Regions from separate parts of the Homo sapiens genome. Here regions 2, 3, 4 and 5 are each linked to region 1. The links come from fine-mapping of genetic effects on gene expression. A gene starts in region 1. Each other region holds a variant in brackets. All regions are shown on one strand. Distances are from middle to middle.

Region 1 (4,770 bases):
AGGGCAGGTAGAAGAAAGTGCAGACCTTCTTAAATGCAGGTGTAACGGATCTACATGAAAGAGCATAATTAACACCAATGTATACTTAAGGTAGTAACAGCTTCTTCATAAAGTAGCAAAACTAAGGATCTGTGGGAAGGTTGCTGGTGCAAATGCTTTATAAGCTTACTAGAGACTGAGCCTTGGATTTAGGACTTTAGACGAGTATAGGATGGAACAAAATTTTTGCAGTAAATGTAAAAAATGCTGTGTAGGAGGAAGGCGTATAAGGATGCCCCAGCTGTAGGTTCTTTAGATTGTCTGTAGTATTTCCACGAGTAAGTTGTTTTTGATGTGTGTACTGGTATTGCTGGTAGATTTGAAGTGGAGTCTGGCGGCTTCTTCCACACTCCCCTCCCACTAGCTTGTGTCAAGATGTGACATCCTATGCAGCAAAACTAGGTGAGCTTGCACCCCCAGGCGGTGGCTCTCAACTTTGTCTCATTGTTCAGAAATTTCGGCCAGGCGCCGTAGCTCACCCCTGTAATCCCAGCACTTTGGGAGGCCATGGCAGGTGGATCACTTGAGGTCAGGAGTTCAAGACCAGCCTGGCCAACACGGTGAAACCCCGTCTCTACTAAAAATACAAAAATTAGCCAGGTGTGGTGGCACATGCCTGTAGTCCCAGCTACTTGGTCAACTCAGGCAGGAGAATCACTTGAACCCAGGAGGCAGAGGTTGCAGTGAGCTGAGATCAAGCCACTCCAGCCTGGGTGACAGACCGAGACTCTGTCTTTAAAAAAAAAGAAATGTCATCTAAGCCCCAGTGAACCTCCTGGGAGGAGAGCTAGCCCTGGCCAGCTGTCTCCAAAGTGACTGGATGCTACAGAAGAACTGGGACTGTCTTCTGCACACTCGTGCCTCCTGGAGTTGTCAGAACACTGAGCAGTCTCCTAGTTCTGCGTCCGTCTAGCCATGGGGTCTGCCATGAAAGCCTGTGGATCTGCTATTGGGTTGGTATTTTAAACTTTCACTTGGGTGAAACTTGTTCATCATTTTAAATAAAGCAACATGATTTGGAGTTGTGTTTTTGGCATTGTTTTGTCCTTATTTTCTTTCTTACTCATTTGAAAGTCAACAATGTACTTTGTCAGCAGAACAGGACTTTAAAAAAATGTATTTACACTTTAAAACAATGGGATGGAGCACAAAATTAAGGCCCTGGGCCAGGAGCATTGATGCACACCTGTAATCCCAGCTGCCCAAGAGGCTAAGGCAGGAGGATCACTTGAGCCCAGGATGTCGAGGCTGCAGAAAGCTATGATCATGCCTGTGAATAGCCACTGCACTCCAGCCTGGGCAACATAGTGAGACCCTGTCTCTTTAAAAAAAAAAAAAGAAAGAAAGACCCTGTCTCTTTAAAAAAAAAAAAAAAAAATTGGCTGGGCGCGGAGGCTCACGCCTGTAATCCCAACACTTTGGGAGGCTGAGGCAGGCAGATTGCCTGAGGTCAGGAGTTCAAGACCAGTCTGGCCAACACGGTGAAACCCTGTCTACTAAAAACAGAAAAAAATTAGCCGGGCATGGTGGTGGGCGCCTGTAATCCCAGCTACTCAGGAGGCTGAGGTGGGAGTTTCGCTTGAACCCGGGAGGTGGAGGTTGCAGTGAGCCGCGATTGCGCCACTGCACTCCAGCCTGGGCAACAGAATAAGACTCCATCTCAAAAGAAAAAAAATAGGCCCATACACTGGCTGAAACTTCCACAGTGGTTAAAAGCTAGTCGCCCGTAGATAAAGCCTATTTCACATTTTATAGTTTATAGGCTCTTTTCATCAACCACCACTAAAAGGAAGTGCATGGCCCGCTTAATATCGTGCAGTGCAGCAGAATTCAGCTCTCCCTGTTGCTGAGGGGTCTCGTTTGTGTATCTTCATTTAAAAAGAAGCACTCCATCTAATATCTGGTTTATATCACAGATCAGCTCAGGCACTGTAATATTCCCAAAAAAGTATTAAAGGCATCCTCAGCAAAAACTGGAACCGTGTTTTTTTTAACATTAGGCCTTATGTTTGGCGTGATACCTGACATGCCCGTCCTGTGTTTATTTAAAATAACTAAAGAGTGGGTGGGGAGTGGTAGGAAAGTATGTTTTTGGTTACAACGTGTTTATCTCAAAATCCACTGTTCAGCAACAGAGGCCTGGGAGGATCTGGAGAAACAAAAACAATAGCCTTCATTTCCTTCATTGTACCCTCCCACCCTGCATGCATTCTGGAATTGTGCAAAGAAGAAAGTCTGGTAAGAGGAATAGCGTTGACCAAGGACCTGCAGCTGAATTTCAGGTCTAGGGGCGGGGGAGCCATGTTACTGTTAACAGGGAGGCCTGTGTTGAAGGCTGCTGGCCTCAGCTCCGAAGGGAGCATTCACTGGCCGGGATCTGGAGATGTCCTCTGTGAAAGTGCATTAAGGCAACCCTGAGGATTAAAAGCAACTCCTGACATGCCTATAAAAACGGCAGTGGCTGAACGTAATCCGGCATTATGATTGCTTTACAAGCCAATCCAGGCTGCCGTTTCCATGAAGCTTCCCGGGTTTGCTTGTCTCTCTGCATTCCCACATTTCCAAAATGCTCTAAGACGAACCGCCGTACTAAGGCCAAAGATGACAACCTAAGGGCACCTCATACAGTATTTCAAATTGAACCTGAGCTAAATTGTGCCCCAAAGCGTCAAGGCTGCCCAGGCCGGGCAGGGGTTGGCCCTCCTGTGCCTCCCAGGTGGTCAGGGCTCTGCCCCCTCAACACCCCCGCCCGCAGCCTGTGCGTCACCCTCCCGGGGCCGGAGGGGGCGGGGGCGGGGCGCGGCGATGGGGGCTCCGCCCCGAGGCGGGGCGCGGCGACCGGGCGCGGCGACGGGGCGCGGCGGGCTCCCTCGGGGTCCCAGCTGGCCCGCACTCGGCGGCCGCGGCGCGATGGAGGCGCCGGCCGAGCTACTGGCCGCGCTGCCTGCGCTGGCCACCGCGCTGGCCCTTCTGCTCGCCTGGCTACTGGTGCGGCGTGGGGCGGCCGCGAGCCCGGAGCCTGCCCGCGCGCCCCCGGAACCCGCGCCCCCGGCCGAGGCCACCGGGGCCCCGGCGCCGTCCCGCCCCTGCGCCCCCGAGCCGGCGGCCTCGCCCGCGGGGCCGGAGGAGCCTGGAGAGCCCGCGGGGCTGGGGGAGCTCGGGGAGCCTGCGGGACCGGGGGAGCCCGAAGGGCCAGGGGATCCCGCGGCGGCGCCAGCGGAGGCGGAGGAGCAGGCGGTGGAGGCGAGGCAGGTACGCACCGGGGCCCTCGCGGCCCCCTCCCCACCCCCGGGGCTCCGGCTGCCGCTGCCGTTCCCCGCCGAGCCAGGGAGCGGGGCCGCGGCCTCCAGCCCAGGCTGCCCCCAGGAAGCGCAGAACCCGCGGCCCGCAGGAAATGCAGGTCCCGCCATGCTAAGCCGCAGCCCCGCAAACTCGCCGCCCTCCCCCAGAAAGTGTGGCGAGGGGCGAGCCCGAAGGAGTTTGTTTGGAGGTGTTTTGCTCTCCCCTCCCCTCGGCCTCTCCCAGCCCAGGGCGTGCTCCGCAGCTGCTGGCTCCCAGGCCTCGGGACCAGGGCTTGGAATTTTGCTCCTCACCCACTTCTGACCCCTCCCGCCCACCGGTTCCCAAATCCACGTGCCTGTGGCTTATTTCCAGGCCTGCCATGAGAGTTATCTTGATGTTTAAAAAGTAGGACTTTCGGGGGGCGAGGGAGGAAAGCTGGCTTTTCTTTTTCAGCCAATTTGAAGTCCAGATTTCAGAGTCAGTGCTGTGGCGTTTTGTGAAGCCCGTGGGCTGGGACTGAAAGAAAAGGCACCCGATCCCAGCAGTCCTTTTTATTGTCGTTTTCAAGCTACACATCTAACACCCTCCTACCCCCACTCCCCCGGGTTGTAGGTAAGCTGGGCCTGGATGGAGTGAAGATGCAGGATAAAGCCCTCCTGGAGCACCAGTGAGCACCCCAAAGCGGCCCTCCCTGCCTCTGCCCCAGGCCTCCCGCCATGCTGTCCATCAGCTCGGCCTTGGCCACCTTGTCCTGCCTGTGGATATCTGAGAGGAGTCGGATTTCCCTCATCCACTCATCCCAGCCCCTACACTGTGTGCCCATGTTCCCTGGAGTTCACCACGCTTGGCCGGTCCAGGCCACCGCCAGGGTCTCCGAGTCGGATTGTAATCCCTTGTTCTTACCCCTGAGCTCCTTTTCTTGGAAGGGAGGAGAGCCGGGATGCGCATTGTCAGCGTGCCTGCGTGTCTGCGTGCCCACTCTGTCCTGTGCTGGACACAATGGTTTACCCTGGAGAGAAGCCCTTCGGGGGAGGAGGAGGCAGCCAGGCTGTGCTCAGAGGCATTTCTCTTTGCTGAGTAAGTGCGCCAGACCCCCTCTGAGCAGGCGCTTTGCTTGACAAGTGGGTGACTAATTGTGTCATTAGAGAGGATTCTAACCAGCCACATTTAATGGGGTGGAGCAGGGGCAGGCCCTGCCGTTCTTGCTTGGGGTGGGCTTCCAGACCTCACGCGGTGATGGTGGAGGGGGCGCGGTTTGGACATGTGCTGATCTGTTGTGTTTGCTCCCATATTTGGGATTCCTGCCTCCATCGAGGTCTCGCGGGAGCAGGAGAGGCCTTTAGACAGTTCTGGAGCCGTCATGCACACTCAGTCAGTCCTGGCCTTACAGGGCTGGCCCTTTATCACCCACACCAGGCTCTGGACTGAAGTGCAAAATGTCCTTTAGCG
Region 2 (4,770 bases), 110 kb before region 1:
GTGGAACACTCAAGGTGGGTGGAAGGATGCTGAAGGCAAGGCTGCGGGCAGCTGAAGGACAGTCAAGAGGAGACACAGCCCAGGAAGGGCTGGGGTCGGGGGAGCAAAACGGAGGGTGAGCAGATCAACTCCACTTCCAGACGTGTCTCGGCAAAGCTCAACCATCCAAGAGCAGGAGCGGGGGAACCAGCAAGGTGCTCTGGGCAGGTGCGTGTGTGCAGAGGTGTGCAGGACAGGGAGTGTGTGTGGTGTGTGTAGGTGTGGTGGGTGAGCGTTTGAGTGTGTGCAAGACTTTATGAGGGGCCCGGCGCGGTGGCTCATGCCTGTAATCCCAGCACTTTGGGAGGCCGAGGTGCGTGGATCACTTGAGGTCAGGAGTTTGAGACCAGCTTGGTCAACATGGTGAAACCCTGTCTCTACTAAAAATACAAAAATTAGCCGGGCGTGGTGGCACATGCCTGTAATCCCAGCTACACGGGAGGCTGAGGCAAGAGAATCGCTTGAACCCAGGAGGCAGAGGTTGCAGTGAGCCAAGATCATGCCATTGCACTCCAGCTTGGGTGACAAGAGCGAGACTCTGTCTCAAAAAAAAAAAAAAAAAGTTTATGAGGGAGAGTGTGCAAGTGTACAGGTGCATGTGCAAATGTATAAGCGGGTGAATGTGTGTGTGTATGTGTGCACAGGCACCCAGGAGAGGGGAATACAGAATCAAGGTTAGAGGAGGCCAAAAGCAGTGACTTACGCCTGTAAACCCAGCGCTTTGGGAGGCTGAGGCAGGAGGATTGCTTGAGGCTAGAAGTTCAAGATCTGCCTGAGTAACATAGCAAGACCCTGTCTCCACAAAAAAATTAAAAATTAGGCAAAGCACCCTGGCTCATGCCCGTAATCCTAGTACTTTGGGAAGCCAAAGCCAGAGGATCACTTGAGCTCAGGAGTTTGAGACCAGCCTGGGCAACACAGTGAGACTTCAACTCTATTTAAAATAATTATGGCCGGGTGCGGTGGCTCACGCCTGTAATCCCAACACTTTGAGAGGCTGAGGCAGAAAGATCACTTGAGTCCAGGAGTTTGCGACCAGCCTGGGCAACATGGCAAAACCCCACCTCTATAAAAAAGAAAATACAAAAAGTAGCCGAGCATGATGGTGCCTACCTGTTAGTCCCAGCTACTCGGGAGGCTGAGGTAGGAGGATTGCTTGAGCCTGGTTGGTTGAGGCTGCAGTGAGCTGTGATCGTGCCACTGGACTCCAGCCTGGGTGACAGACGAGACCCTGTCTCAAACAACAACAAGAAAAAATATTCGCTTTTCCTTACCTTGAATGCCACTGGGTGAAAATGGTGGTCAGAGTTCCTCAGATCAACTCAGTTGAAATAGAAATGTTCCAGGGGGCTCCTAAGACACGTCACTGAGAGTGGGAATTCCAAGTTTCCCAAAAGCCCTCCTGCCGCTTCCCAATACCCACCTCCTCCACCTTCCACCTCATTCTAAAGCCCAGGCTCATACCCAGAGGGTGCTAGGCCCAGTGGCCCCACACACTCCTCCTCCTCACTGGCCTCCTTCAGAGGCCCAAGTGACAGCTGGGCAGTGCTTGTGGGTGATCTCAGCATGAGCACCCACGTTTTTAGCTGCAGAAGAGAGGAGCTTGAACTAGATGATTGCAAAGATGAGGGACAGCTCCAACATAATGCTGCTGGCTGTACACTGACAAAGTGCCTTGAAGATCACGGGCTTGATGTCACCATGAAGTGATGCTGAGTGGAGGCCAGCATCCACTGGCCCCGTGCCAGAAGAGGAACAGAGCCTCCTGCACTCCACTCTGCCGGGTCCAGAGCTTCGGAGCCTCTCTGCCACAGCCAGGGCTGACCCCACCCCCTTTCCCATCCTGACCCAGGCCTCCAGGACCCCAG[C/T]TCCAGATCAAGTGGCAAAATCCATTGTTTAAAAGGAAAAGGTGGGCCGGGCATGGTGGCTCATGCCTGTAATCCCAACACTATGGGAGGCTGAGGCAGGTGGATCACCTGAGGTCAGGAGTTCGAGACCAGCCTGGCCAACATGGCGAAACCCCATCTCTACTAAAAAATACAAAAATTAGCTGGACGAGGTGGCAGGCGCCTGTAATTCCAGCTACTCAGGAGGCTGAGGCAGGAGAATCGCTTGAACCCGGGAGGTGGAGGTTGCAGTAAGCCAAGATTGCGCCATTGCACTCCAGCCTGGGAAACAGAGCAAGACTCCATCTCAAAAAAAAAAAGAAAAAGAAAAAGAAAAAAAAAAAGAAAACATGGGCCAGGTGCGGTGGCTCACGCTTGTAATCCCAGCACTTTGGGAGGCCGAGGCGGGTGGATCACTTGAGCTGAGTTCAAGAGCTCAGGAGTTCAAGACCAGCCTGGCTAAGATAGTGAAACCCCGTCTCTACTAAAAATACAAAAATTAGCTGGGCATGGTGGCGGGAGCCTGTAATCCCAGCTACTTGGGAGGCTGAGGCAGAGAACTGCTTGAACTTGGGAGGCGAAGGTTGCAGTGAGCTGAGATCACGCCACTGCACTTTAGCCTGGGTGACAGAGTGAGACTCCATCTCAAAATAAATAAATAAATAAATAAAAGATGGCCAGGCACGGTGGCTCACGCCTGTAATCCAAGCGGTTTGGGAGGCCCAGGCAGGTGGATCACTTGACGTCAGGAGTTCAAGATCAGCCTGGTCAATATGGTGAAATCCCATCTCTACTAAAAATACAAAAATTAGCTGGGTGTGGTGGCATGCACCTGTAGTCCTAGCTCCTCTGGAGGCTGAGGCCAGAGAATTGCTTGAACCCAAGAGGCGGAGGTTGCAATGAGTGGGGATCATGCCACTGCACTCCAGCCTGGGCAACAAAGCAAGAGTCTGTCTCAAGGAAAAAAAAAAGAAAAAAAAAAAAGGACGACCAGCATTTTGATCTAGGCTGGCATTGGTCCACATGCTCCTTCTCTCAGGAGAAGGGGATAATTGTGATGTTTCTGATTCACTGAATTTATTGAGGGTCTCCTCTGTGCAAAGTGGTCTCACTCCTTATTTATACCTAATCAAAGGACCATTTGAGCACCCCCTAAATGATGCTCACCTTAACCCCATGAAGTAGCCATTTCTTGAGTGCTGCAGTGAAATCGAGGCCTGGAAAAGTTACACCTTTGCTCAGGGTGACATCTAAGAAGTGGGGGGATGTAATGTGAACCCAAGCTTCTCTGTCCCCAAGGCCCCTCTCGGCAGCATAGGGAGAGGATCATCATGTTGGCAGCCTGTGCCCACACCGCATGGCTTCCTACTCTGCTCCTAGAAAAGGGGCCCTCACAGCTGGCCCCTGGCCAGGAAGCCTGCTCCCAATAGCAGCAGATGCCCCAGGAATGGCGACCTCCTTGGCAGGGTACCGGAGGTTAAGGGCAGAATGGTTTCTGCTAGCAAGGCAGCCCTGGGGCAGGTGCCAGATGGACCTGAGAGCATGCCAACTGCTCTGGAGTGATTTCCTCCTGATTGCCTCCTGCATGGCAAGGACCTGCCCTCTCTACCTTAATAAAATTGGATCCCCATCCTACAAAACTAGACATAGAGAGAGACGCTGTCATCCAAGGGGAGACTGAATCTTGGATTCTAGAAAAGAAGAGTTGGGACTGCAAAGTCAATTCCCTTTATGCACCCCCGACTCCAACTTTCCCTCCCCACACTGCGCCCTCCATCCCCCACCCTTCATAACCTAAGGACAGACAGTTGATTTTTGTTAACAGAGTAAGTGGTTCCAGTAACCACCTTTCAACACAGCCCGGAGGAAAAAGGGAACTTCTCTGCCTGGCATCTTTCCCACTGTGGTGCCCCAGGGGAAGCTGTCCCTTGAGACACTGTGGAGAGCCCCAGGCTGCCCACCTGCAGAGCACTCCAGAGGCCTCTGGACTCCCCCAGCTGCTGAGGTTGGGTAGAGCCTTTGCTATCCCCTCTCCTGCAAGCCCAGAGGAGGCAGCTCAGAGCAGAAGGGAACCTCTGTCCTTTCAGAGCTTGGCCCCAGGTTAGGGCAAAGGGGATCCAAGTCTCTCCTTTCAGAGCAGGGCTCACCTGGGCCAAGCACTCTGGGGCCCTCTGGGACAACCCTTGCCATTTGCCCTCCCCTACAGGAGGGACTCACAGTGGCTGCCGAGCTCTTGCCTGTCCCATCTATCCAACAGCATGGGACCTGGCAATTATGGCAAGCTAGGAAGTTATTAAAAGGTAAAGTCTATTTTTAGGAAATCAACAGCAAACTGAGGACAAGGTAGGAGAAAACAATATCTGCCTTCTGGGACTTTGCAGCTTCTGATGCATGTGATTGAGCCTCAAGATGTAAGCAGCCCACCCCAGTGAAGTGGGGGAAGAGGCAGCCCTCCACCCACCAGGCATCCCCGGAGCAGAGCCTGCTGGGAGGTGACCTCTGGGAGAAGAAGAAGTGCCAAGGGAAGTCTGCAGTGGCCCAAGGGAAGGGGGCACAGAAGGAAAGCATCTAAAAATGGAAGTCTTAGAACATAAATTATTCAAAAACAGGATTATTTAACTGGAAGTTAAAAATGAGAGAATCATTACACACCCTTGCCCAAATGTTAATGCCCTGGAGAGAAGGCGTATTACTTTCCTCGGGTCACCATAACAAACTATCACAAGCTGGGTGGCTTAAAACACCAGACAGGTATTTTCTCACAGTTTGGAAGCCAGAAATCTGAAATCGAAGTGTTGGCAGGACTGGTTCCTTCTGGAGCCTCCAAGGAAGAATCCATTCCACG
Region 3 (4,770 bases), 30 kb after region 1:
GCACAGCAGATACTCTGAGAACGGTCCGTGCTCCCAAGCTGTGAGACAGGCAGGTTCTTAGGATCAGGGCAAGGGTTAGCAGACAACGGCCGGGCCACATCTGATCCCCCACCTGCCTGTGCCAATCCAGCGTGGCAGTAGTAGCAACACTCACCCATTTTCCTGTGGTCTGTGCCTCTTTGTGCCGCAGTGGCCGAGGTGAGTCACTGCAGCAGAGACCACACAGCCCCCCAAATCTAAGTAGTATCTGGCTGTTTGCAGAAAAAGGTTGCAGTCCCTGGACAGAGGCTAGAGGGGGCTGGACACAACTGCCAGCCCTTGAAGGTCCCTGGGGACAGAGGCTGCTCAGGCAGATGGATCTGGAGGGCCTCTTAGAACAAGAAAGACCAGGCCTCCGGCTGGGGGTGAAACTGCCACTGCCACCCACGTCCAGAGCTGGGACCTTGGCAGTGGGGAGGGAAAATCCCTTCCCCTTATTTTCAGAGAGTAGACCCTCTGCTGCCCATCCTTCCCCCACTGGATCTTTGGAGGTCTCTAGACCACCAACCCACACTTGGCTGTTCTGTGGGACCGAGACTGTGCCCGAGGTGCTGCTCCTGGGACGAGGGAAGACTCCTCGACTCCTCTGCATGCTGCAGTTACCACTTTGTGCCCTGAATTGAGAAGGAGGGGCCGGAGGACTTCTTGGGGCAGGACTGGAGTTCACGTTCATTCCCATCACTGCCCAGCCCGCATGCTCCCTGTGGCTCCTAGGCATGCCGGTGGCATCTGCTTGCTCCCCCACACCTCTGCCCCCCTGCATGTGGTTGCCCCTCGCAGCACTGCGTGGGGTCTCCGCGGCTCCACATCACGCTGTCCTCACACGGTGATGCTTGGGGTTGCAGAGGCTGGTCAGTTTGGCTTTGGCTCTTCATCTTCAGCACGATGGTTCTCATGGGGGTGGGGAGCGCTGGCAGCTGTGAGACAGTTCTGGTCCCAGCCAAGTCCAGGGAACCGCCCTAGAATCATCAGTATGAAAAATAACATGCCTGTTGTTATCAAACCACTAAAACCACAGGCCAGCTAGCAGGGTGCTCTCTCTCCGCCTGTCAGGTTCCACCCTCCCGGCCTCCATGCCTCTGATGCCTTTCCCAGCTCTCAGGGTCCAGTCGAGTTGCAGCTACAAGCTGCACGTCCCCTAACTTTAAATTTACTAGCTCAGCCAACAGATCTGCATCTAGAACCTGAAGCTTTAGTGGTTGCCAGTTCCAGCACTCCCCAGGAGCTTCAGTTCACAGGCTCTCATGACAATTAGGAAGTGGGACTGGAAGCAGAAGGCCCCCAATTAGTTCCCCGACATGCTGAAGTGGTCAGTCTCATCCTTGAACTACTCACAGATCAAATTCCTTCCGCCTGGGGCCAGAAAGCGGTCAGGTCTGTAAATCCAGAGGCAGCTGCTGCTTAAGATCCTGCTTGCCACTGTCTGCCCGCCTCCTCAGCTCTCCCCTCGGGCCGGAGTTTCACACACTTCATGCCTCTGGTGGCGTCCCTGGGTTCCGCTGAAGCTGCTGTGGGAAGTGCCACCTCCAGTTTCACAGTGTGGCTAGGACAGTGGGCTTGCAGGCTGGTGACAGCTCCCCTGAGCAAGAGGCCTCCTCCTCCTCCCCCAGAGCTAGGGAAGCTGGCAGGGCTTGGCTGGCTTCACAGCTTGGCAGGAGAAAGAACAGGCGCGGCTGTCAGCTCCTCTCCATCACTTCTTCCCACCTTGTGGTCTCAGAGGGAAAATGAACCCAGGCTATAGACTGGGCTGGCTCTGATAGATCAGGACCCACCCCTCCATTTGAGGTCTGCAGGGCTGTCTTGACTCCTCTGGAAATGGACATGACTCTAGAGGAAGGTGCTAGTGTGGTAAAACAGGGAAGGGGAGGAGGAGGCCAAGGAACCCCAGCTGTGGGGTAGTTCTGGTTCTTCCATCTGATGTATGCAAGAAACTACAGACAATAGACCTGCCAGTGTGAATTTCCAGCTCAGGCTGGAAATGCGTGCTGACTGTGACCACCAGGAGAGGGCGTCAGAGGGACAAGATCAGACCTGCTGGGTTCTCAGTGGTCCCAGGGCTGGCAGTGTGTCTTGGTTCATAAAAGACGGGCATGCAGTTGGCTCCATCTGGAAGCGTGCATCCTAGGGTGCCAGTATCCCCCGAGGGGACAAAACTCAGCCAGCGGGAATGGGAAATTATCTAGGGTGATAGGAATATTGTCAGCACAACCACACAACCCAAGATCAGAAAGGCCCTTGGCAACTCAAATGCCCAAGTTCCTTCCTTAAGTACCCTGCAGAGGCTGAACAGGGTCTGTGGGCTGCCAGGTTCTGTGCGGGATCAAGGGGAGCTCTGCAAGCTCTGGCC[G/A]GCTTGGCGGCACAGACTGTCTTGCTGCAAGCGATGAGAAGCAAATCAGCAGTGGTTTGAGAAACCAGAGTCTAGCGCAGCTTCTGCAATTCCAAACATTCTCCTTCCTCGTCCCCATTTCCCCCTTTCCTTGCCCATGGTGCAGGATGGAATGAGTAAAATAAATTATCTTTTTCTCCCCATTTCTCTTTACAGAACTGAAGAATAACGAAGTTATCCTTAGCGTCCTCCTAAAGGCTTTTCCTTTTGGCATCTTAAAAGCTTGAGAGATAAAACGGAAACCCCAGAGAGGAGTCTGGGCAGGCTCCCAGGGTGCATGCTGCCTCCATAAATCTGCTGAGCTCTAGACCCTCAATCAGGACTTGTCCCTTGGCTAGCAGGATCCTGGGAACACCTTTGGCCCTGCCCTGTGTAGAGATGTTCATGTCTGTTCCTGTGGGTCACTTTGTTAAGCTGAAGAGTTTTAAGAGGTAGAGCTCAGACCCTGGACTGGGATTTTTCTTACCACTCAAACTTGCTATCCACACACCCTGCACACCTTAGATAAAAAGAACATTTTAAAAGCAGAGTTCACTTTCACTCCAGTCTCCCCTCTTTTGCCCTCACTGAAGCCAAACCACAGAAGACTTTGAGGAATGAGAGACAAATGAGGTAGAGCTCACCTGTGCTCACCAGCTCCGTCAGGGTGGTCAGCCGACCCCTTTCCCTGGGAACCCCACTTCTCTCTGTGGCTGGCTTGGTTGTCGGGGGTGAGATGCCATATTGATTACAGGGCAGCAAAGAACCAGTACCAGGAATTTACTTGACCATTCCCCTTATTTTTCATCTAGAGGAATCTCGGATTCAGCCCTTTCATTGCTAAGACACCTTTTCACTGAGGTTCTTACCAGCTCAGCCAAATCTCCACTCTGCTATAGCAGAAGCAATAATGTTTGCTTTAAAAAGATTTCTTGACCTATGCCTTTTCTTAGAAAGTTTGATAGATTAGTTAGAACTTCAGATCATCAGATCAGTCTCAAATGGGTTTCTTGGAATTTTATATTTGACAATATTTATACTATACCAAACTCATTTGCAGTTCTTAGGTTTGTTGGTTAAAACATTTTTTTAAAGCAGTAAGTTTATAGAAAATGTTTTCATTTAATGGAAGGCTGGGGAATGTCCAGCATCAACCCCTATGGCATGCATTCCCAGGGGCCTTCTCATCTGGGCCTGGAACCTTTGGTTCAGGGCTTAGGGGAGAACAGGCCACATGGCAACAGCCACACAGTCATTGCCTTCAACACAGAGCCACGTGTCCCCAAACAGCAATAGTCATGCCCTTGTCCAGGCTGGGATCTAATTGACACAATAGGTCGTTGACTCCCTCCTAGTAGAGCTATCTAGGTTTGTCTGGAAAGTTTCCGACCCTGGCTTATAGGCACCACACCTCATGTACTCCTCATGGCTTGGATCTCTGTATTCAGCCTTTGTTCAGTCCAATAAACTTTGAGTAGATGATCTCAATTACTGTGTGTTTTTTCAGTTTGCTTTGTTTTAAAACAAAATCCCTTTTGAACCCATTGAAGTTTGACCTTTCTTTCATTTTGATGCCTCTTACTCTGCAGCAGAGTACAAAGCCATACATCCACCCTGTTAAAAAATATGCAGTCACCATGGCTGTCAAAACCACATGACATGATCTGTGTTCACTCAGGGACATATGGATTGTGCTTCCATCCACAGAGCTCAGCACATCCTTTCTGTTCACGGGAATTCCTCTTCTTCTTCTTTTTTTTTTTTTTTTTGAGACAGGGCCTCCCTCTGTTGCCCAAGCTGGAGTGCAGTGGTGCAATCACAGCTCACTGTGGCCTGGACCTCGTGGGCTTAAGTGATCCTCCCGTCTCAGCCTCCCAGGTAGCTGGGACTACAGGTGCTCACCACCACACCTGGCTAATTGTTTTATAGAGACAGAGTCTGACTATGTTGCTCAGGCTGGTCTTGAACTCCTGGGCTCAAGTGATCTTCCCATCTTGGCCTCCTAAAGTTCTAGGATTACAGGCATGAGCCACTGCACCTGACCCTCTTTCTTCTTACAGGAGGGCACAAAGCACACATCATAGGCTGCTGCTTCACCAGACAGGGGAACCGACTGTAGACACAGCTTTCCCAGGGGACAAGGGAGGCTGGGAAGTGGGACTTCAGTATTTCAACTACTAGATGCTGCTCTAGACAGAAAATTTTGCAGGATGGAAGATGCGGGGCTGAGGAGAGGAGGGAAGGGTGAAGCAAAGGAATATGGTAGCAAAAGTATGGGAGCGAACGTGGAGACCACCCCTCCAGGCAGTGTGGGGGATGCCAGTGGCCCAGGGCTATGCTGAGGTCCTGCGGTTGCAGAGCCTGTA
Region 4 (4,770 bases), 960 kb after region 1:
GCGCCGCCGTCGTCCGGGGGCCCGTGGGGCGCCTCGGCGTCGGAGGAGCGCCCGCTGCTGGCCGACAGGCGCGGGATGAGCTCCGGGGGCAGCCGCCACGTGACGCGCCGCAGGTCCAGCTCCTCCCCCAGCAGGGGCTCGAACTTCCAGCCGCAGCCTTGGGAACAACGAAGGGCCGCGTTGGCACCGCCGGGGGGCGCCGGGCCGAGCAGGGCCAGGCGGGGGAAGGCCGTAGGCTCTGCGAGGGGAGCCCGTCTCCAGCTCCCGGGATCCCGGGGTGTGTGTTGGGGGCGGGGGTAGATGCGCACGGCCGGAGCGGGAAGGCCGCGGCAGGTGAAACCCTTGCGCGGCTGAAGCCTTTCCAGATGAGCGAGTGCAGCCTCGGCACAGCTGGGGAGGAGAGACCCCCGGACCCGCCAGAAACCTGGGGGAAGTCTGGGCTCTGTCACCAGCTGTGAGGTCTCCCTTGCTTTACTTAACCTCTCCGAGACTCAGTTTCCCGTTTGTACAATGGAGAGAGGAATCTTGCCCCTGCCCGCCTCCCAGGGACCGTTCCGCAAGCCACCGAGCGCTTCGCAGGTAGTGTTAGAAGCAGCTGAGCTGGGGTTCCAGAGTCACACCAGCTGCGCTCCACCTGAACCCCTCAAAATGGCTCCTTAAGCCCAAGCTGAGCCCCGTGGGGGCCAGTATGTGTTCACCGGGGGCAGCTTGAGGCATCGGCAGGGACAGAAGAAAATACAAAAGATATACGTGCCCCAGAGGTTTTTCCACTCATGGTACTGTGTGATTGGTATCCCATTATACAGAGCAGAAAAGTGAGGCATGGAAAGGATGAGTGATTCATCTGATGTCCCACAGGTGGAGCCACAGCTGACACTGAGCACTCAGGAGGCCCAGCTAAGGGCTCCGCAGCACTTTGTGCTGGGAATCAAGGAGGAAGGACAGAGCTGTTGGGGGTGTTCTTGTCTCCTTGGCTCCCCTACCCCTGCCAGGTGGCCGCCTGGTGGCTGCCCAGGGCTCCTGGGCCAGGCCTGCCCCTGGGGGGTGGCCTGAGTGTCCTGTGTGCATGGCACAGCTGGTGAACCTTCAACTTGTGAAGCTGTGTTTCTTCGTGGTCCCGTGGGCATGAACTCATGTGCGCTTGCACAAGGCTGTGTGTGTCTGTCCCCCAGGCACTGGTTCCTGTGCCCCATGCACAGATGTGCACTCCATTGCATTTGTCCAAGGCTGCCTTAACCTCCATGTCCTCTAGTTGCTGGCCCCTTTGCCCTCTCTGGACCCAGTGGACTCACTCTGTACCCAAGACCCCCACTGTCCTCTTGTGGGTCCCAGGTCTCCACTCACCAGTGTCATCGGAGACGCTGGGCCTCTGGCTGCCCGATGGAGAGCGTAGAACGTCATCGCTGTACATAAGGAAGCTGTCGTAGTCCTCCCCGCTCTGGGCGTCCACGATAGGGATGTCAGGGATGATGGGGACTGCAGGGCAGGGGAGTGAGCCAGGGCCCTGGCTGCTGCCCCCTGCCCCCCTGCCCGGTCTGCCCCTCACCTCCCTGCCCACCACTCACTGGACATGGGCCTCTTGGGCTGGGTGGCCAGGTTGATGATGGCCTCCCGCTCAGGCCCCCAGCCGGCCCCGTTGCGCGCCTTCACCGTGTAGCGGTAGGGCTGGGACTCCCGAAGGTTCTCAATAAGCAGCATCCGGTTCTTAGGGTTGTCAACCAGCACTTTCTTCATGGGCCCAATAGGTCCTGGGGCAGAGAGAGTGCTTCAGAGGGTCACCCAGGTCCCAGCCTGGTCCCAACACCACCCCTGACACAGCAGGACGGCCGTGCATCCCCTGGATGGCACCCAGGGGCTGGGGAAGCAAGGCAAAGCCAGCCACTGCTGAATTGCCGCCTGCGGAGCCCTGAGCGTCAGCATGACTGGCGTGGACATATGTCACCAGTCCTCCAAGGGACTCTGCTGAGTAAGTGGCAGAGCCAGGGCTGGACTCAAGTTGGCCTCGATGTCACCTCTACCCATATATCCACGGTGCCTCCACACAAGGCAAGGGCACGCATAGGGGTTGCCCACCCTGCCTCCCTTCCAGGACTGGAGAAATAACTGTTCTGCTAGGCACCTCTGATCTCGGGCTGCTAGA[T/C]AAAATAATGTATAAAATAATCCTTTTTATTTATTTATTTTTAGACGGAGTCTGGCTCTGTCACCCTGTCTGGAGTGCGGTAACACGATCTCGGTTCACTGCAACCTGCGCCTTCTGGGTTCAAGTGATTCTCCTGCCTCAGCCTCCTGACTAGCTGGGACTACAGGCATGAGCCACCATGCCTGTCTAATTTTTAGTAGAAACGGTTTCACCATGTTAGCCAGGCTGGTCTTGAACTCCTGACCTCAAGCAGTCCACCTGCCTCGGCCTCTCAATGTACAAAATAATCTTTTAAAGTGCTATCTGAAATTCAGAACCTCCTGTATTTCTGTTTGCTAAATCCGGTAACTTTCCTCTCACCCTAAGAAAACCATGCACGTGTGAGCTCCCTGGTTACCTGCATGGGGAGGGGTACCCCTGGGCCTGTGACCTCACTCCACATAGGTAACCACCCACCCTGCAACCTTCTGGGTTTGGTCTTAGAATGCAACCCAGCCCAAATCTGGCCAAAACCCTAAAGATGCCTCAGGCTTATCCGCTGACCAGGATGAAGGCCTCGAGTGCCCTGCACAGCAGGTCCAGGGAGTGACCAAGAGCTCCCTCCAGCTTTGTCCCCTCCCCTTCCATGGCTGTTCTCCCTGTGGGCAGGAAAGAAGGATCTGGTTCTTACGGTTGTCATCGTTGACCAGGCCATAGCAGACCTCGTAGGCTGTGATCTCACCGTTGGTCTCAGCCGGCTCAGCCCAGCTCAGCTGGGTCACCGTGGAGGAGACGACATTGAAGGCCAGACGCCCTGGCTCGCTGGGCACTAGGGAGCGGGGAATACAGGAAGAGTGCTGTCAGTGGCAGAGGGAGGGAGGTCTGGGCATGCTGGCATCAGGGCAGCCAGGGGACAAATGGACAGACATGGCGAGGCCTCACCTTCCTGGTGGGTGCGGCAGGACACCAGGGAGCTGTAGGGTCCCTCGCCCTGAGCCCCGTAGGCGCACACCTTCATCTCATAGTCGCAATACGGGTACAGGTTGGTGAGCTCCACTGAGGGCACCTTGCTGTCGAGCAGGTGGGCTTCGGATTCGGAGTCACCCTGAATCCAGTACTTTACCTACCCCCAGGGACAGGGGTCCTGGTCAGCAGGGAGCAGCAGGCACCCAAGCTGCCTGTCCCTCCTCTGACCTCTGCCCTTACTGTCCTCTTTGCACAGATGAGGCCCGAGGGAGGGGCTGAGAGATCTGCCATGTGCACACGTCAGGACTAGGGCAGAGCAGGTGGGGGTATCTCCCATGCGGGGGTGGGAGGGGGCCCCATTCTAGGAAGGAGGGCAAATGTCTGATAAACTCAGGAATGGGTCTTCCCTCTTTCCCAGCACAGACCGGGTTTCCCTCTGACCACCTGTGCTAGGTTCCACTGTCTGCTCTCTCTCAGGGGGCCCTGGCCTTGGACGGCCCACCTCTTCTGTGAGTGCTGGTGCCAGACCGCCCATCCACCTGTCGTGACCCTCAGCCCCCCGCCTTACCCTGTACCCCATTGGCTTGCCAGAAGGGGGCAGCCAGTTGAAATGGATCTTCCTGGACCCAGCGGCCTTAGCATTGGGGTTCTGCGGGGCGCCCAGGTCGCCGTGAGGGGGTGGCTGTGATGACAACATCTGACTCGTGAAGCTCCGGTCCAGTTCATCTAACGGGTCAGGTTGGGGCCGGGCAACCACTCAGATCCCCCTTCACCACCAGGGGGCGCCAGAGACCCACTTCAACACCCAGGGCGCTCTACCCAGCGCATTCAACTCAGACCTGCCCACCCGCGTCTCTGGAGACCTGGTGGTGCCCCATTGCTGCCACATAGAGCATCCTGCCAAGCTTGGCGGAGGACCCAGGAGGGTCTCTGGAGGAACAGAAGCGGGAGGGAGTTGGTCTGCCCCTTTCTCCCTTGGCAGCTCAGGGAACATTCCACATGAGAACATTTGCTCCCCACCCCATCTCCACACTGTACCCTGAGTATCTCCCTCCTCTCCCATCTTCCTGGCAGGCTTTCTCCCAGTTGGGAGGCTGAGGGCTGATAGGAACTAACTGGCCCACTCCTTCCTTCCACAAGCATCTGCATGTTAGTTGGAATTGAGGCTGAAGCCAAAGGGCCAGGGTCTGATGGGAGAATTCCTATTGTGTGGTGACAACAGCCTCTCTAGCTGTAGGGTTGCCAGATAAAATGCAGGATGCCTAGTTACATTTGAATTTCAGATAAACAACAAGATTATTTTTTCTTGGGGGACAGGATCTCATTCCATGGCCCAGGTGCTGTGCAGTGGTGCGATCACAGCTTGCTGCGGCCCAGACCCCCTGGGCTCAAGTGATCCTCCCACCTCAGTCTCCGGAATAGCTGGGACTGCAGGTGCACACCACTATGCCAAGCTAATTTGTTTATTTTTTGTAGAGACGAGGTCTCACTATGTTGCCCAGGCTGGTCTAGAACTCCTGGGCTCAAGTGATCCTCCCACCTTGGCCTCCCAAAATGCTGGGATTACAGGTGTGAGCCAGTATACCCAGCCCATTTTGCAAAAAAAAGGATAAGTATGTTCCAAATATTGCATGGGACATACTTATCCTACCAACGTGTATGTTGTTTACCTGAAATTCAGATTT
Region 5 (4,770 bases), 100 kb before region 1:
CACCCACTACAGAAGGGTAACCGACTCACCCTATAAAGATAACAGGAAAATTCATCTAAATTCCAGCAAGGGCAGCTTAAGTTGGATGGCAGCTACGTCTTTCTGATGGCAAACACTGAGGATGGGAGAATCTATTCCTTGAATGCAGGTGAGGGACAAATGACCTCCAGAATCAACCTGATAACTCCCATACTAAGTTCACGTAGAAAAGCAAAGGGGCTGGACTCAATGGCTCTTGCATGTGATTCTTGCAATTTGAGAAGCCGAGGCAGAAGGATGACTTGAGCTCAGGAGTTCGAGATCAGCCTGGGCAACATAGTGAGAACCCATTTCTTAAAAAAAAAAAAAAAAAAAAAAAAAAAAAAATATATATATATATATATATATATATATATATATATATATATATAATTAGCTGTGCATGGTGGTGCACACCTGGCACACCTGCAGTCTCAGCAACTTGGGATACTGAGGTGGGATAATTGCTTGAGCCTGGGAGGTTGATATGGTTTGGATTTCTGTCCCCACCCAAATCTCCTGTAGAACTATAATCCCCAGTGTTGAGGGAGGGGCCTGGTGTGAGGTGACTGGGTCATGGGGGTGGACTTCCTCCTGGCTGTTGTTGTGCCAGTGAGTTTTCATGAGATCTGGTTGTTTAAAAGTATGTAGCCCCTCCCCCCTCTCTTCCTCCTGCTCCAGATATGGAACTTCAACTTCCACCATGATTGTAAGTTTCCTGAGGCCTTCCCAGCCATGCCTTCTGTACAGCCTGCAGAACCGTGAGCCAATTAAACCTGTTTTCTTTATAAATTACACAGTTGCAGGTATTTCTTTATAGCAGTGTGAGAATGGACTAATACAGAGATCGAGGCTACAGCGAGCTGTGATTGCACCAGTGCACTCCAGCCTGGACAATAAGCAAGACCCTATCTCAAAAAAAAAAAAAAAGAAAGAGAAAAGAAAAGGGGATTGCAGCAGTCACTGAGGGCTAGAGGAAAATGTCATTGAATGACTACAAGCAGCAAAACTCCCCAATAATAAGGGCCACTGAAAAGACGACAATGGTAAAGGCACAAATGACAGTGGACTAAAGTCTCTCCTGTGCACACAACTTTCCACTCTCCAGGCTCCTCTTAGCAACCTGAGGCAGCATTAAGTGTTGTTGTTGTTGAGACGGAGTCTTGCTCTGTCATCCAGGCTGGAGTGCAGTGGCGTATTTTCAGCTCACTGCAACCTCCACCTCCCAGGTTCAAGCGATTCTCCTGCCTCAGCCTCTCGAGTAGCTGGGATTACAGGCATGCGCCACCACACCCGGCTAATTTTTGTATTTTTAGTAGAGACGGGGTTTCACCATGTTGGCCAGGCTGGTCTCAAACTCCTGACCTCTGGTGATCCACCTGCCTTGGCCTCCCAAATTGCTGGGATTATAGGCATGAGCCACCGCACCTGGTCTAAGTGGTTTTGATGTAAAAAAATGTATATACATATATATATACCTGTTCTACTGCAGGAATTCTAGTGCTGAAGAAAAAAAAAAGGACTCTTAGTTCAAAATGAATTTATATATTTAACTGTGACTTTCTAGGCTTCCTGTTAGATGTTTTCTTCTGAGGTCAAAGGCAACAAGAGCTAAATGAATCTCATTCTTACTAGAGTTTATTTGCTGTTATATTTTTTGGCAAAACCACTTTCAAAACAGTAATATCTGGAAAGGTTTTCAATTTTCCCTGAATTGAGTTCTCAGTGCCTTTCAAAGAGGAAATGACAGATAAGGACAGTGTATGAACTCAGGGATTTAAATAGGAACATCAGATACCTCCATGCCACCCCAGAGAAGAATTGAGGAGGGGTGTCAGGAGAGCGCAGCAGAGCCTCATTTGAAAGGCTGCATTGAAGTTCAAATTGCATTTTAATTTACTATGCCAGTTCAATTCCTCTTCCGTCCCAGCCCTGGGGGTTAGCCACACAAAAAGGAGGCACACTTCACAGTAACTCCCTCACAATACAGAAAATCCGATTGCAAGAGCGGGTCGCCCTCTGCAGGGCACGAAAGGATGTGAGCCTGGTCTCCGAGCCCTGAGGTTTCTTTCATGCAAGACTTCAAAAACAGCACAGTGATTCCTACACACTTCAAGAGACCATTTCCGCCTGGAATTTGTTAATTTGGTAAGCCATGAAGGATTAGAAGGCCAGAGGGCCATGGCTAAAACTTTTGCCTAGGCATTTGGAATTCATCTGAAGCTACTAGCTAAGGGTTGGTGGTGTTTGGTTGACTAGGGACATAGAAACAGTGGTGAGCATGGGTCCTGCAGGGACTCCACCTGGGTGAGAATCAGAGCATTTTCTTTTCTTTTTTTTTTTTCAGACAGCGTTTTGCTCTGTTGCCCGGGCTGGAGTGCAATGGCGCGATCTCAGCTCACTGCAACCTCTGCCTCCCAGGTTCAAGTGATTCTCCTGCCTCAGCCTCCCTAGTAGCTGGGATTACAGGCATGTGCCACCATGCCCAGCTGATTTTGTATTTTTTGTACAGACTGGGTTTCTCCATGTTGGTCAGGCTGGTCTCGAACTCCCAACCTCAGGTGATCCGCCCACCTTGGCCTCCCAAAGTGCTGGGAGTACAGGCGTGAGCCACTGCACCCAGCCGAATGAGAGCATTTTCCTTCCTTCCTTTCTTTTTCTGTCTTCCTTCCTTCTTCCTTCTCTCCCTCTCTCCCTCCCTTCCTTCCTTCCTGTCTT[CCTTT/T]TCTTTCTTTTCCTTCCTTCTCTCCTTCCCTCCCTCCCTTCCCTTCCTCCCTTCTTTTTTTTTGAGATGGAGTTTTGCTCTGTCGCCCAGGCTGGAGTGCACTGGCACAATCTCGGCTCACTGCAACCTCCGCCTCCCAGGTTCAAGCCATTCTCCTGCCTCAGCCTCCCGAGTAGCTGGGATTACAGGCGCGCACCACCATGCCCAACTAATTTTTGTATTTTTTTTAGTAGAGACAGGGTTTCACCATGTTGGCCAGGCTGGTCTCGAACTCCTGACCTCACGATCCACCCACCTCGGCCTTCCAAAGTGCTGGGATGGATCTTGTTCTGCTGCCCAGGCTGGAGTGCAGTGGCACAATCATAACTCACTGTAACCTTGAACTCCTAGGCTCAAGCAATCCTCCCATCTCAACCTCCTGGGTAGCTGGGACTACAGGTGCATGCCACCATGCCCAGCTAATTTTTATTTTATTTTTTGTAGAGATGGGGGTCTTGCTATGTTGCTCAGGCTGGTCTTGAACTCCTGGCCTCAAGCAATCCTCCCGCTTTTGCCTCCCAAAGTTCTGGGATTACAGATGTGAGCCACCACACCAGGCCCAGAATATTTCTTGACTAACAGACACCCTGGAAGCCATCATGGCCAAACCTTTATTTTCAGATGAGGATATTTGGTCCAGAGTGTCTATGACTTGCCTGCAGATGCCCACATGGGACCAGAATCTAGGTTTCTCTGTTGTCATCCTTCCTCAGACCCTGACAGGGCAAGCAACAAACTGGAGGAAAGAGGAAACCTTGGGAGAGAAAACCTGCCCAGGGGTCGGGCATCCTGGAGCTTGGCCTGGCCTTGTTTGACATAGGACTTTGCTAGGAGCTGAAAGCCCAGCTCGAATGTCTCATAAGAAAGTTGTGTTGTTTTATCCGGGCAAATCCTGGCTTGTTCCGGGTGTGCAGACTGTGCACAGCCAGTGTTGCTGAAGCTCTGTGTGATGCTGTGTTGGATTGGAGGTTCTGGGAGGGCACAGCTCTGTGGCTTTTGCTCTCTGGTGTATTCCTTTCCTCTACCCTACAGTAGGAGCTGGGGATTTGCAGAATTTATCCCAATAAGGAGGCATGCTTTAAACATTTTTCATACAGTTGGGGTGATTTTTACACTGATCTTTCTTGCCTGCTCCTCCTTATAACAAATAATTTAGTAGACAACTGGCCAAAGTTATAGGTGCTAGGTGAAGCTGTCTGGGAATGACACTGGGTACCTACTGAGTGAGCCAATACTGACAATGCTAGCATTTCTTGTGGTCCGCAGTCTTCATTAAAAGTAAAATTTTGCTGGGGTGTAGTGGCTCACGCTTGTAATCCCAGCACTTCAGGAGACTGAGGCAGGTGGATTCCTTAAGGCCGGGAGTTCAAGACCAGCCTGGGCAACATGATGAAACCTTGTCTCCACAAAAAATACAAAAATTAACTGGCATGATGGTGCACACCTGTAGTCCCAGCTTCTTGGGAGGCTGATGTGGGAAGATCGCTTGAGCCTGGGAGGCAGAGGTTGCAGTGAGCCAAGATCACACCACTGCACTCCAGCTTGGGCAACAAAGCAAGACTTTGTCTCACAAAAAATAAAAAAAATAAAAAATAAAATTTTGCCCAGCACAGCGGCTCACACCTGTCATTTCAGGACTTCGGGAGGACCATGTGGGCAAATTGCTTGAGCTCAGGGGTTACCAACCCGGGCAACATGGCAAAACTCTTTTTTTTCCGAGATGGAGTCTTGCTCTGTCGCTCAGGCTGGAGTGCAATGGCGTGATCTCAGCTCACTGCAACTTCCGCCTCCCGGGTTTAAGTGATGCTCCTGTCTCAGCCTCTGAAGTAGCTGGGATTACAGGCGTGCACCACCACCCCCAGCCAATTCTTTGTATTTTTAGTAGAAACGAAGTTTCACCATGTTGGCCAGGCTGGTCTCGAACTCCTGACCTCCTGATCTGCCCACCTCGGCCTCCCAAAGTGCTTGGATTACAGGCATGAGCCACTGCG

Alleles and levels. Positions count from the first base shown, and alleles are read on the strand shown. Sizes are in standard deviations (SD) of each study's normalised expression. Not every link is listed here.
For the expression in monocytes of the gene that starts at base 2,931 in region 1, allele C in region 4 goes with a lower level than allele T (large effect, 1.8 SD a copy in Fairfax 2014).

Evidence for each region. PIP is the estimated chance that this variant, and not a neighbour inherited with it, causes the effect.
Region 2: its variant is fine-mapped to the expression of MXRA7 in blood mononuclear cells (TOPMed, PIP 0.97).
Region 3: its variant is fine-mapped to the expression of MXRA7 in whole blood (TOPMed, PIP above 0.99). The same link has a PIP of 0.9 or more in atrial appendage, caudate, cerebellar hemisphere, cerebellum, cerebral cortex and coronary artery.
Region 4: its variant is fine-mapped to the expression of MXRA7 in monocytes (Fairfax 2014, PIP 0.95).
Region 5: its variant is fine-mapped to the expression of MXRA7 in whole blood (TOPMed, PIP 0.98).

Annotation. Positions count from the first base shown.
Region 1 is chr17:76,709,126-76,713,895 of GRCh38, reverse strand. It overlaps MXRA7 (matrix remodeling associated 7), which reads left to right and starts at 2,931. Exons shown (of 4, transcript NM_198530.4): 1 at 2,931-3,291. The coding sequence starts at 2,950. It also overlaps a transcript of JMJD6 not described here. RefSeq lists a silencer at 2,700-2,909.
Region 2 is chr17:76,819,364-76,824,133 of GRCh38, reverse strand. LOC107985089 (a long non-coding RNA gene) reads right to left here and starts at 1,194. Exons shown (of 4, transcript XR_001753021.2): 1 at 1,153-1,194. The variant C/T (reference allele first, on the strand shown) is at 1,908.
Region 3 is chr17:76,678,691-76,683,460 of GRCh38, reverse strand. It overlaps MXRA7 (matrix remodeling associated 7), which reads left to right. Exons shown (of 4, transcript NM_198530.4): 4 at 2,582-3,895. The coding sequence ends at 2,594. Among named protein-coding and RNA genes, the nearest start is that of MXRA7, 30 kb to the left of the region's middle. RefSeq lists an enhancer at 486-1,032. The variant G/A (reference allele first, on the strand shown) is at 2,387.
Region 4 is chr17:75,749,152-75,753,921 of GRCh38, reverse strand. It overlaps ITGB4 (integrin subunit beta 4), which reads right to left. Exons shown (of 40, transcript NM_000213.5): 28 at 3,654-3,811; 29 at 3,062-3,242; 30 at 2,811-2,948; 31 at 1,566-1,748; 32 at 1,345-1,476; 33 at 1-157. It also overlaps a transcript of GALK1 not described here. Among named protein-coding and RNA genes, the nearest start is that of GALK1, 14 kb to the left of the region's middle. RefSeq lists an enhancer at 1-155 and a silencer at 1-352. The variant T/C (reference allele first, on the strand shown) is at 2,141.
Region 5 is chr17:76,813,988-76,818,757 of GRCh38, reverse strand. No RefSeq gene overlaps it. Among named protein-coding and RNA genes, the nearest start is that of LINC02080, 17 kb to the right of the region's middle. The variant CCTTT/T (reference allele first, on the strand shown) is at 2,737.